Homo sapiens: one gene and its partners. The protein of the gene in region 1 purifies or fractionates together with the protein of each later gene. This does not show direct contact. Each region holds a gene or a part of one and is shown in the gene's direction. Other genes may lie near its edges. The genes, in order: RNF125, DDX46 and PRKAR2A.

Evidence for each region.
Region 2: the proteins of RNF125 (region 1) and DDX46 purify together in Homo sapiens (affinity purification with mass spectrometry, with the first as the bait; one large-scale study listed by BioGRID). This does not show direct contact.
Region 3: the proteins of RNF125 (region 1) and PRKAR2A purify together in Homo sapiens (affinity purification with mass spectrometry, with the first as the bait; one large-scale study listed by BioGRID). This does not show direct contact.

What each region holds. Positions count from the first base shown.
Region 1 is NC_000018.10:32,035,746-32,039,398, forward strand, and holds part of RNF125 (E3 ubiquitin-protein ligase RNF125), read left to right. Parts: intron 1-1,370; coding exon 1,371-1,524; intron 1,525-3,653. UniProt on the Homo sapiens protein: E3 ubiquitin-protein ligase that mediates ubiquitination and subsequent proteasomal degradation of target proteins, such as RIGI, MAVS/IPS1, IFIH1/MDA5, JAK1 and p53/TP53.
Region 2 is NC_000005.10:134,824,685-134,828,258, forward strand, and holds part of DDX46 (probable ATP-dependent RNA helicase DDX46), read left to right. Parts: intron 1-2,262; coding exon 2,263-2,336; intron 2,337-3,574. UniProt on the Homo sapiens protein: Component of the 17S U2 SnRNP complex of the spliceosome, a large ribonucleoprotein complex that removes introns from transcribed pre-mRNAs.
Region 3 is NC_000003.12:48,764,231-48,767,883, reverse strand, and holds part of PRKAR2A (cAMP-dependent protein kinase type II-alpha regulatory subunit), read left to right. Parts: intron 1-2,534; coding exon 2,535-2,636; intron 2,637-2,805; coding exon 2,806-2,880; intron 2,881-3,653. UniProt on the Homo sapiens protein: Regulatory subunit of the cAMP-dependent protein kinases involved in cAMP signaling in cells. Type II regulatory chains mediate membrane association by binding to anchoring proteins, including the MAP2 kinase.

The sequences.
Region 1 (3,653 bases):
TAAGCAGGGATGAGAAAGCTGCAGTCTATAGGCTGGTACAATGTTTGAAAAGTATAATTTTCATATGTTAAAATACATTTTAAAAAGTCAGTGATTACTTTGGAGGGGATAGAATTGTGTCTGGAGGCCGGGCACAGTGGCTCACGCCTGTAATCCCAGCACTTTGGGAGGCTGAGGCAGGTGGATCACCTGAGGTCAGGAGTTCGAGACCAGCCTGACCAACATGGTGAAACCCTGTCTCTACTAAAAACACAAAAAATTGGCCAGGCGTGGTGGTGGGTGCCAGTAATCCCAGCTACTTGGGAGGCTGAGTCAGGAGAATTGCTTGAACCCAGGAGGTGGAGGCTGCAGTGAGCTGAGATCGTGTCATTGCACTCCAGCCTGGGTGACAAGAGCAAGACTCCATCTCAAAAAAAAAAAAAAAAGAGAAGGAAACAAGAGGGGAAATTTTAGGGGCTGGCCACGCTGTTTTTGTTATAGGTACTGGTTATATGGATGTGTTCAGTTTTGAAATTTCATTCAACTATATGCTTATAAGAACTTTCCAGTATGTACAGTATACTTAAAATTTAAAAAGCCTACCTTTGGACATGTATTAATACTCCCAAATAGATATTATGTGCTGAGTAGTTTAAGAGGCATCAGGTCATGCTCATGTGTATAAATTACCCAAATGCTCATTTTTATTTCTATGTTTATGGAGTCTTCAACAACTCCTATAAATAGGTCAGAATTTTCTGGAAATGTTGATTATGTTAAGATTTCATAATGAGCACCTTTAAATAAACCAGAGAACATATTTCTTGACCAGAAAGGAAGGAAGGAAGGAAGGAAGGAAAGGAAGGAAGGAAGAAGGGAGGGAGGGAAGGAGGGAGGGGAGAGGGGAGGGAGGGAGGGGAGAGGGGAGGGGAGGGAGGAAGGGAGGGAAGGAGAAAATGGTTTTATAGGGAATTATAATGTGTCTGGTATTTTTACTTCCTTGACTTCCTGCTATTTTCTTATGTGACACACAAAACCCCACAGAAGAAAGACATATTTTCTCAAGAAATTTGAGGTAAAATCCAATTTAGACATTCTTTAAAGTATCGTTTAAACTTAGCCTATAGGAAAGCTATTTCACCCACTTTGAATTCTTACTTTTCTTGAAATGTGTGAAAGTGCATGTGGTAAGAATGTGTGATTCTAAAGAAGTCTTGCTGGGAAGGTAAGCAATTCTCGGGAAGTGCAGGGTGCAAGTGGACCTGTAATTTGGTAGTATGGCTCATGGGGTACGAGGTGTCATTAAATTACAGTTTACACAAATGAATACATGGTGGTGGCTCCTTATAGCTTTCAAGGAAAGTGATGTATTTTTGGTCTGTTTGGGGTAGATTCTGCCGTTCCTGTATTGCTACCAGTCTAAAGAACAACAAGTGGACCTGTCCTTATTGCCGGGCATATCTTCCTTCAGAAGGAGTTCCAGCAACTGATGTAGCCAAAAGAATGAAATCAGAGTATAAGAACTGCGCTGAGTGTGACACCCTGGTATGTATGTGACCCCACCTATTTTCATGGTTACCAGCTTAAGTCCCTGCGAAAGTTATCATTTCACCTCTGCTTCTGACCCCATGGTACGCACCTTTTTTTTTTTTTTTTTTTTTTTTTGAGACAGGTTCTCGCTCTTTCACCCAGGTTGGAGTGCAGTGGTGCGATCTCGGCTTACTGCAACCTCCGCCTCCCAGGTTCAAGTGATTCTCCTGCCCGCAGCTTCTCGAGTAGCTGGGTCTACAGGCACCTGCCATCACGCCTGGCTAATTTTTTGTATTTTTAGTAGAGACACGGTTTCACTATGTTAGCCAGGATGGTCTCAATCTCCTGACCTCATTACCCGCCTGCCTCGGCCTCCCAAAGTGCTGGTGAGATGTGAGGCCAGCTGGACTTCCCGGGTAGAGTGGGGACTTGGGAAACCTTCCTGTCTTACAAGAGGATTGTAAAACACACCAATTAGCGCTCTGTAAAATGCACCAATCAGTGCTCTGTAAAACGCATCAATCAGTGCTCTGTAAAGTGCACCAATCAGCACTCTGTAAAACGCACCAATCAGCAGGATTCTGAAAGTAGCCAATCGCAGGGAGGATTGGAAAAACTGCACTCTGATAGGACAGAAACGGAACATGGGCGGGGACGATAAGGGAATAAAAGCTGGCCACCCCAGCTAGCAGTGACAACCGGCTTGGGTCCCCTTCCATGTTGTGGGAGCTTTGTCCTTTTGCTCTTCACAAGAAACCTTGCTACCACTCACTCTTTGGGTCCGTGCCATTTTTTTTTTTTTTTTTTTTTTTGAGACAGAGTCTTGCTCTGTCGCCCAGGCTGCAGTGTAGTGGCGCCATCTCGGCCCACTGCAAGCTCCGCCTCTCAGGTTCAAGTGATTCTAATGCCTCAGCTTCCCGAGTAGCTGGGACTACAGGCATGTGCCACAATGTCTGGCTAATTTTTTGTCTTTTTAGTAGAGAGAGGGTTTTGCTATGTTGGCCAGGCTGTTCTCAAACTCCTGGCTTCAAGTGATCTGCCCACCTTGGCCTCCAAAGTGCTGGGATTACAGGCGTGAGCCATCTCACCCAGCCTCCAATTTCATATATGTACATATATCATCTGCAGAAAACCCTGAACTTCTACCATCACCCGTAATTTGTCAAACAAATGCTTTCATTGACCACCTCCATTTTCCCTTCTTCCCATTACTCCAGTGATCCTCTATGATATGTCCTCCAGTTCTGCTACTCTGTTGCAGACCACTAATGAATAGCTTTATTATCAAACCCAGTGACATATTTCCACCTGTATTGATCTGGACTTTGCAGTATTTGTCTCTATCAAGCACACCTTGCCTGTTGCAGTTTTCAACTTGGGTACTATATCAGCTTCCCCAGATCATGTGAGGTCTTGAAGGTTATGTAGAAGATTCTAGATTTTATCTTAAATGCAATAGTAAGCCAGAGAAAGAGAGTAAGTTTTGGAGTGCCAAGATCGGGCTTATATCTTTATTTTTATTTTTATTTGAGACAGAGTCGCACTCTGTTGCCCAGGCTGGTGTGCAGTGGTGCGATCTCAGCTCACTGCAGCCTCCACCTTCTGGGTTTAAGCGATTTTCATGCCTCAGCCTCCCGAGTAGCTGGGATTACAGGGGCCCAACACCACGCCTGTCTAACTTTTGTATTTTCAGTAGAGACACAGTTTCACCATGTTGGCCAGTCTGGTCTTGAACTCCTGACCTCAGGCGATCTGCCCGCCTCGGACTCCCAAAGTGCTGGGATTACAGGCATGAGCCACCATGCCCAGCCCAGGATTGTATCTTTAAGATATCACTCTAACATACACATAGAAAATGGTTTGGAGGCCAGGCGCAGTGGCTCATGCCTGTAATCCCAGCACTTTGGGAGCCCGAGGCGGGAGGATTGCTTGAGCTCAGGAGTTCAAGACCAACCTGGGAAGAGACCTTGTCTCTACTAAAAATCAAAAAAATTAGCTGGGGCATAGTGGTATACGCCTGTAGTCCTAGATACTCCAGAGGCTGAGTAGGAAGAGCGCTTGAGCCCAGGAGATCAAGGCTGCAGTAAACTATGATCGTGCCACTGCACTCCAGCTTGGGCAACATAGCAAGACTCTCTCAACAA
Region 2 (3,574 bases), on another chromosome or scaffold:
ATTTTTTAAAGGATCATTTAGTTTTTGAAACTCCGAACTCAACTAAACACTAACAGGATGAAAACAGGTGTTGCTACTGTGGAATGAGCCTAGTGTCATCTGTTTCTAGTTCTGTAATTGGAGGGACCCCACTGCCTGGCTGGCTCCTTGGAGGCTCTGTTTGGCTCAGCAGCTCCAGGCCTCCCACCAGGCAAAGGGAAGGAGAACAGGAAGGACTTACATGCCTAGTCAGCCTGTATAATTTATATAGCCTGTTCTGTGACCCTCTCTTTTTACTAGTGGAGAATCCCTTAAAAGCAGCCACAGTTGTTTTAGGACCAATGAAAGGAAATGCCCTTTTTTTCATAGCTGCTTATAAACATATGTAACCTATTACAAGAAGTTACATAAGTCAGAATTTAAACTGGTCCAAATTGTCGGGCTCTGATAAAAGTAGGAAAATTGATTTTCCAGTTAAATCTAGGTGAGAGTGTCATTTTCCTTCTTTTTAAAGTTGCACAAAAATATCAACAAGCTTCACACCAACTCATACCAAGCAACGTGTTTTCCTCCTAAATTTCATTTTTGTTGTAATTTTCAGTTTGACTTCGGTCTTGATTCTTCTTTTTCTCTTCCCTTCCAGCACTCACCTTCCCCACGTAGTTTTATAGTGTTGTGATTGGTGGCTAGTGGAGGTATAGGATTTAAATTAGATATGTTGCTATGACTTCATAGCCATACCCTTGGCCTTTTCCTTCCTGTTGTGCAACTGTTTCTGTCTCTCTTTCTAGCTCCGTCTCTGTCTCTCTCTGGGGACAGAAAAGTTACTCATTTCTAATATGGGGGGAAATTTTCTCGTTTATTATAAATCTTTCCCTCATTTGTGTTTTTTAAAAATACACGGAATGATAAAAATATAGCTCTCTACGTTGCAAACCCAGTCCTCCTTTTATTCTTAGACATTTCAATCTTTAGTCTTCTTTGATTCAGCTCTTTTTCTCTTCTCAGTGTGCAATATGGTGTCTATCTGTACTTACCTACTCACTGGCATTGTCCATTGGCTCCAGATTCTACCCAGCCTACCCTTGATGGCTCTCTAATCTCTGCCACTTCTAAACTTCTGGTTCATATTTCCATTGGCCTCATCTGTATTTCCAATTGGATGTCTGATGAGCACCTCAACTACAGCAATTTTAGAATTAAATTTCACCCATTATCACTGTCCAGAAAACACCTGTTTACCTCCTGGAATCAGTATATTCTTTTACTTCTGCCTTTTTTCACTTGCCAGCCAGCTCTTAATATCTTAATTTGTTTCTCTTTTTCACTGTTCATATCCCATCAGAAAAAATATCTTGTCCATTCTACCTCAAAAGTGTGCTCTTGTGATGGTATAAATACAATATTGTGAGAGCACTAAGGAAAAAAACACTTAACTGTGCCTTTCAGAGTCAGGAAAACTTCCTAAAAGTGGTATTTAAAAGTGAAGTTTGTGAACTACTTCCTTTTCATCCTGTTTTGATATCTTTACAAGTTTGTTTTTCTAGTCTGTAAGCTTTTAAAGAGCATGAATTTGTTATTTATATGTTAAATGTCTCACAGTATGTGAGAGGTGAGTGCTTAATGTTTATGAAATTGATAACTGTGAATGAATGTCTGCAGCCTACCTCATCTAGTCAGCTATCTTGCGGTGTTCTTTCATACTCCTTTTCCAACCACGCTACGCTTCTCTTATTCTTCAATAATTAAGCATGCTTGTCTTAACTCTGTACCATTACGCATGTAATTAATTTCCTTTGCAAAATACTCTTATGGTATCTTTCCTCCCTCCAATTGGCTAGTCCTCCTTTCATTTTAAAGATTTTGTTCAGACGAGACCCTTCTGAAACATTTGTAGACTTCAGTGAACATCATAAATGTCTAATAAATACTTACTAAATGAATAAACCAAGGAAGTTATATTTCCCTTTAGCCTTCTCTTACTATCTCCTGGACAAATCACTAATAGTCTTTTTATTCCACTCTTTTTAATCACCATACTAGGAACTCTTAACACATAATATGACCTCAGTGGTTACATTTGAAACTCTGAAAGTAATCAAAATAATAAGCAGCCATTATATAATGTGGGTAATGTTCCACCAGGCATTAAATGGCTATCTTGGCAGGCAGTACAGTGTTTCTGAAAGTCACCTACAGTGTTTCTTCCTGGACCTCCGTGATATGGGTAAACACAGTGTAAGTTTAGTAATTTGAATAATATGCTTTCCACTCAATCACTAGGTGCCAATGAACTGGCTGTGCAGAAAGCAAAGGCAGAAATCACCAGGCTCATAAAAGAAGAGCTGATCCGGCTGGTGAGTGAAAACCTTAAAGTTTCGTTTGTTTTGTTTTAATAAGTGTTTTATTGAAATATAAATACAGAGAAGTACTCAAATCATAAACATATAGTTTGATGAATTTTCACAAAGTAATAAGCATACCAGTGTAGTCACTACCCAGATCAAGAAATAAAAAACATTACTAATATCCCAGAAGTCTTCTCTGTGTCTATTCTTGTCACTATTCATCTCCCCCCAACAAAACCATACCTTGAATTTTTTTTCTTTTCTTTTCTTTTTTTTTTTTGGAGACTGAGTCTTGCATTGTCACCCAGGCTGGAGTGCAGTGGCACGATCTCGGCTCACTGCAACCTCCGCCTCCTGCGTTCAAGTGATTCTCCTGCCTCAGCCTCCTGAGTAGCTGGGATTACAGGCGCACACCACCGCATCTGGCTAATTTTTGTATTTTTAGTAGAGATGGTGTTTCACTGTGTTGGCAAGGCTGGTCTCGAACTCCTGACCTCATGATTCACCTGCCTTGGCCTCCCAAAGTGCTGGGATTACAGGCGTGAGCCGTGGCGCCCGGCCCTATATTGTGAATTTTAAAATCATAGATTAGTTTTTCCTGTTTTTGAACTCCACATAAGTGTAATCATGCGTTTGCACCTTTTGCATCTAGTTTCCTTCACTCAACATTTTGAGGAGATCGGTCCATGTTATTGCATGTAGCAATAATTCATTTTCATGGCCATATAATATTTATATGATTATACAACAATTAATTTATATTTATATATTGGATTTGGGGGCTATTCTTATTTTTGGTTTTTATGAACAACACTTCTGTGAACATTATTCCATGTGCGTTTGGTATATATTAGCATGATTTTTTCCTTGGGTATATACCTCGGAGTAGAATTGTTAATTATAGGCTAGGTATTGCTAAATAGTTTTCCAAAGAGGTTACATCAATTCACACTCAATCCAGAAGTGTAGAAAATTCCAGTTGTTCTACATATTTGCCAACACATGGTGTTGTCAGTGTCTTTAAACTTAAACAATGACTTAATTTGATTTTGGAAAAAGCCCTTTACAGACTGCCTTTCCCGAGGAGGTAGACATGTCCTTGTGTCTTTAGTGCCAGTTGCAGCTTATAAACACTCCCTACAGTGTGTACATTTCCTTTGAAAGGAAACGTTGTCTTTTATCTAAGTGTAATTCTGAGAGCTTTTCTAAAATTCCCCTCACAGAGCATTCCTTTTTTTGTTGGGGGG
Region 3 (3,653 bases), on another chromosome or scaffold:
GGTGTGATCTTGGCTCACTGCAACCTCCACCTCCCAGGTTCAAGCGATTCTCCTGTCTCAGCCTCCCTAGTAGCTGGGACTGCAGGCGCGTGCCGCCATGCCCAGCTAATTTTTTGTATTTTTAGTAGAGACGGGGTTTCATTGTGTTAGCCAGGATGGTCTCGATCTCCTGACCTTGTGATCCACCCGCCTCAGCCTCCCAAAGTGCTGGGATTATAGGTGTGAGCCACTGCGTCCAGCCTGTTTTTGTGTTTTAAATAGAGTTGAGGTCTCATTGTGTTGCCCAGGCTGGTCTTGAATTCCTAGCCTCAAGCGATCCTCCTGCCTTGGCCTCCCAAAGTGCAGGGATTACAGGCATGAACCACCACACACAGCCTAAAATATTGTTTTGTTTTTGTTTTTTTCGAGGCAGGGTCTCGCTCTGTTACCCAGGCTGGAGTGCAGTGGCATGATCTCGGCTCACTGCAACCTCTGCCTCCCAGGTTCAAGTGATTCTCCTGTCTCAGCGTCCCAAGAAGCTGGGATTACAGGCGCCCACCACCATGCCTGGCTAATTTTTGTATTTTTAGTAGAGATGTGGTTTCACCATATTGGCCAGGCTGGTCTTGAACTCCTGACCTCAAGCGATCCGTCTGCCTCGGCCTCCCAAAGTTCTGGGATTACAGGCGTGAGCCACTGCGCCCAGCCCATTATTATACTTTCTGACAAAATGTATATATGTATAGTCCTGACAGCCTGAGGTGGAAGAAAGGTAGTTAACTTAGATACAAATAACTGCTTGCCCATTTAGGAATCTAAGACTAAGCAATTAACATTCTCACATGTATCTCCCTGCACATGTGTACACATATCTGAGAAGTGCCTGGTTTGGTTAACTGTCTTCTGATCAGAATCCATTACTTACTAAGCCAGGCACAGTGTTGTGTACCTGTAGTCCCAGCTACTTGGGAGGCTGAGGTGGGGAGATCACTTGACCCCAGGAGTTCAAAGCCAGCCTGGACAACATTGGGGGACCCTATCTCAAAATAAAACAGAAGGAATCCATGACTTGCTAGAGTCAAGGTATCTTTCATATGCCTGCCTTCCATCTTGCGTATTCCTCCCGTGTCTCTCCATTAACTTAAATCCTACCTCTCTTTCAGGTCCTAGACATTTTTGCTGCAAAATAATCTTTGATCACTCCTGCCTACTGTGATCTCCCCTTCTTACCTTGAAATTTATGTGGCACTTGTCTTCTGTAGTTTCATCAAGCACATTTCATATGCTCATATGCTGTCTTGAACTGTAGACTTTTTATTTTTATTTTATTTTTTTTTGAGACACAGTTTCAACTTATGTCACCCAGGCTGGAGTGCAGTGGCGCAATCTCAGCTCACTGCAACCTTAGCCTCCTGAGCTCAAGTGATTCTCCAGCCTCAGCCTCCCAACTAGCTGGGACTAGACAAACGCCACCATGCCCAGCTAATTTTTGTATTTTCTGTAGAGATGGGGTTTCACCATGTTGCACAGCCTGGTCTTGAACTCCTGAGCTCAAGTGATCTGTCTGACTCAGCCTCCCAGAATGCTGGGATTACAGGTGTGAGCCACTGCACCTGTCCTTGAAATGTAGACTTTTTATTCCTATGTATTTTGTTGTTGTTGTTGTTGTTGTTGATATTGTTGTTTTTGGGACATAGTGTCACTCTGCTGCCCAGGCTGGAATGCAGTGGTACAATCACAACTCACTGCAGCTTTGACCTCTCAGGCTCTGGTGAGCCTTTCACCTCAGCCACCCAAGTACAGACAAGTGCCACCATGCCCAGCTAACTTTTTTTGTGTATTTTTTCGTAGAGAGCGTGTTTCACCATGTTGCCTAGGCTGGTCTCATACTCCTGGGCTCAAGCAATTTGCCCACCTTAGCCTCCCAAAATGCTAGGAGTACAGGCAGTGAGCCACTGCATTCAGCCAACCTTCATATTTTGATATTTTATATTATCTCCCCATTAAGATTGTAAACTTTTTTAGGGTAAGAACAATCTAATTGTTCTTTTTTTAGGCAAGAACAATCTAATTGTTTTGGATTTTTTAAGTTTTTTTAAATCCTGGATTCTAAGGATTAAATGATTGTTTTATTCTCTCTTTTGGTGAGGTGTCTCTTTTTTTTTTTTTTTTTTTTTTTTGAAATGAGGGTCTCACTCTGTCACCCAGGCTGGAGTGCAGTGACATGATCTCGGCTCACTAGAGGTGTCTTTTTTGATATTGAACAGTGACAGTGAGCTCATAAATGTTTAGGTGTTTTCTGTTTTGGGTTCTATTTATGACCCATAGGTGGCACCTATTGAGTGCTAGATAGCAAGCAACAGCATGTGGGCATCTGGCTGGCTCAGGCTATAGGTCCTTTACTTCCAGTGATGACTCAAGATTGAAGTATCATTAAACACTTAATTAACACAGTAACTTACATATTCCTCTAATATTTGCTTTGGCCAGTTAATTAAACCATAGATGTTCCTGTATATAGGCATTTACTAGAATTTTCATATTCTTTCTTGTAGGACCGGGTGACTTTTAGAAGAATCATAGTGAAAAATAATGCAAAGAAGAGGAAGATGTTTGAATCATTTATTGAGTCTGTGCCCCTCCTTAAATCACTAGAGGTAAAGTGGCTTGAATAAGAATCTGTTCATGGGGATCAGGAAAAGCTTTTAAAACTATTCTGTTGTTAGGTTTTCAAATCATACTATTCTAATCCTATTTCTGTGCTGCATAGCTATTGTGACTTTCAATTAAGGTCTTTTCCTTTTATTTGTGAATTTGTTGTTTCAGGTGTCAGAACGAATGAAGATTGTGGATGTAATAGGAGAGAAGATCTATAAGGATGGAGAACGCATAATCACTCAGGTGAGTGAGGGCTTTACGCAGCTCCTTTCCTGGAAGTCACCCCTGAAGAACTAGTACATCATTTATCTCAAAAACTTCTTGCCGGACGCAGTGGCTCACGCCTGTAATCCCAACACTTCGGGAGGCTGAGGCAGGTGGATCACTTGAGGCCAGGAGTTCAAGACCAGCCTGGCCAACATGGTAAAACTCCATCTCTACTAAAAATACAAAAATTAGCTGGGTGTGGTGGCCCATGCCTGTAATCCCAGCTACTTGGGAGGCTGAGGCGGGAGAATTGCTGGAACCCAGGAGGCAAAGGTTTCAGTGAGTCGAGATTGCGCCACTGCCTCCAGCCTGGGCAACAGAGCAAGACTCCATTTCAAAAAAAAACCAAAAAACCTTCTATGTTCTCCCACTGTTGGGAGCTCTTATTACCAGGTAATAGATCATACTTCAGAGGACTATTATGTAGTCCTCTGAAGCTTATTGACGTCCGTCTTACTGACACGTGCAGATCTCTTGCTTCCTCTCACCTTTCCTTGGCTTCTAGTGTTTGTTCTTTTGATGTCATTTTCTTTTGACCTTAAGTAAGTTTCATCCATTGCTATTAGAACCTGGGGAAGGTTAAAGAGTTCTGTCCTCTAACTTTCTATATTTGACACAAAGGCATCCTTTTGGCTAATCTAACACAAATCAGAGTTCACAGTCTTCAGTGATTAACCAAATTTGTAAGATGTAAAGATTACTAAACAGTGGGCTAGATCATTGTAATGAGTACTGTCTGATAATTTTCT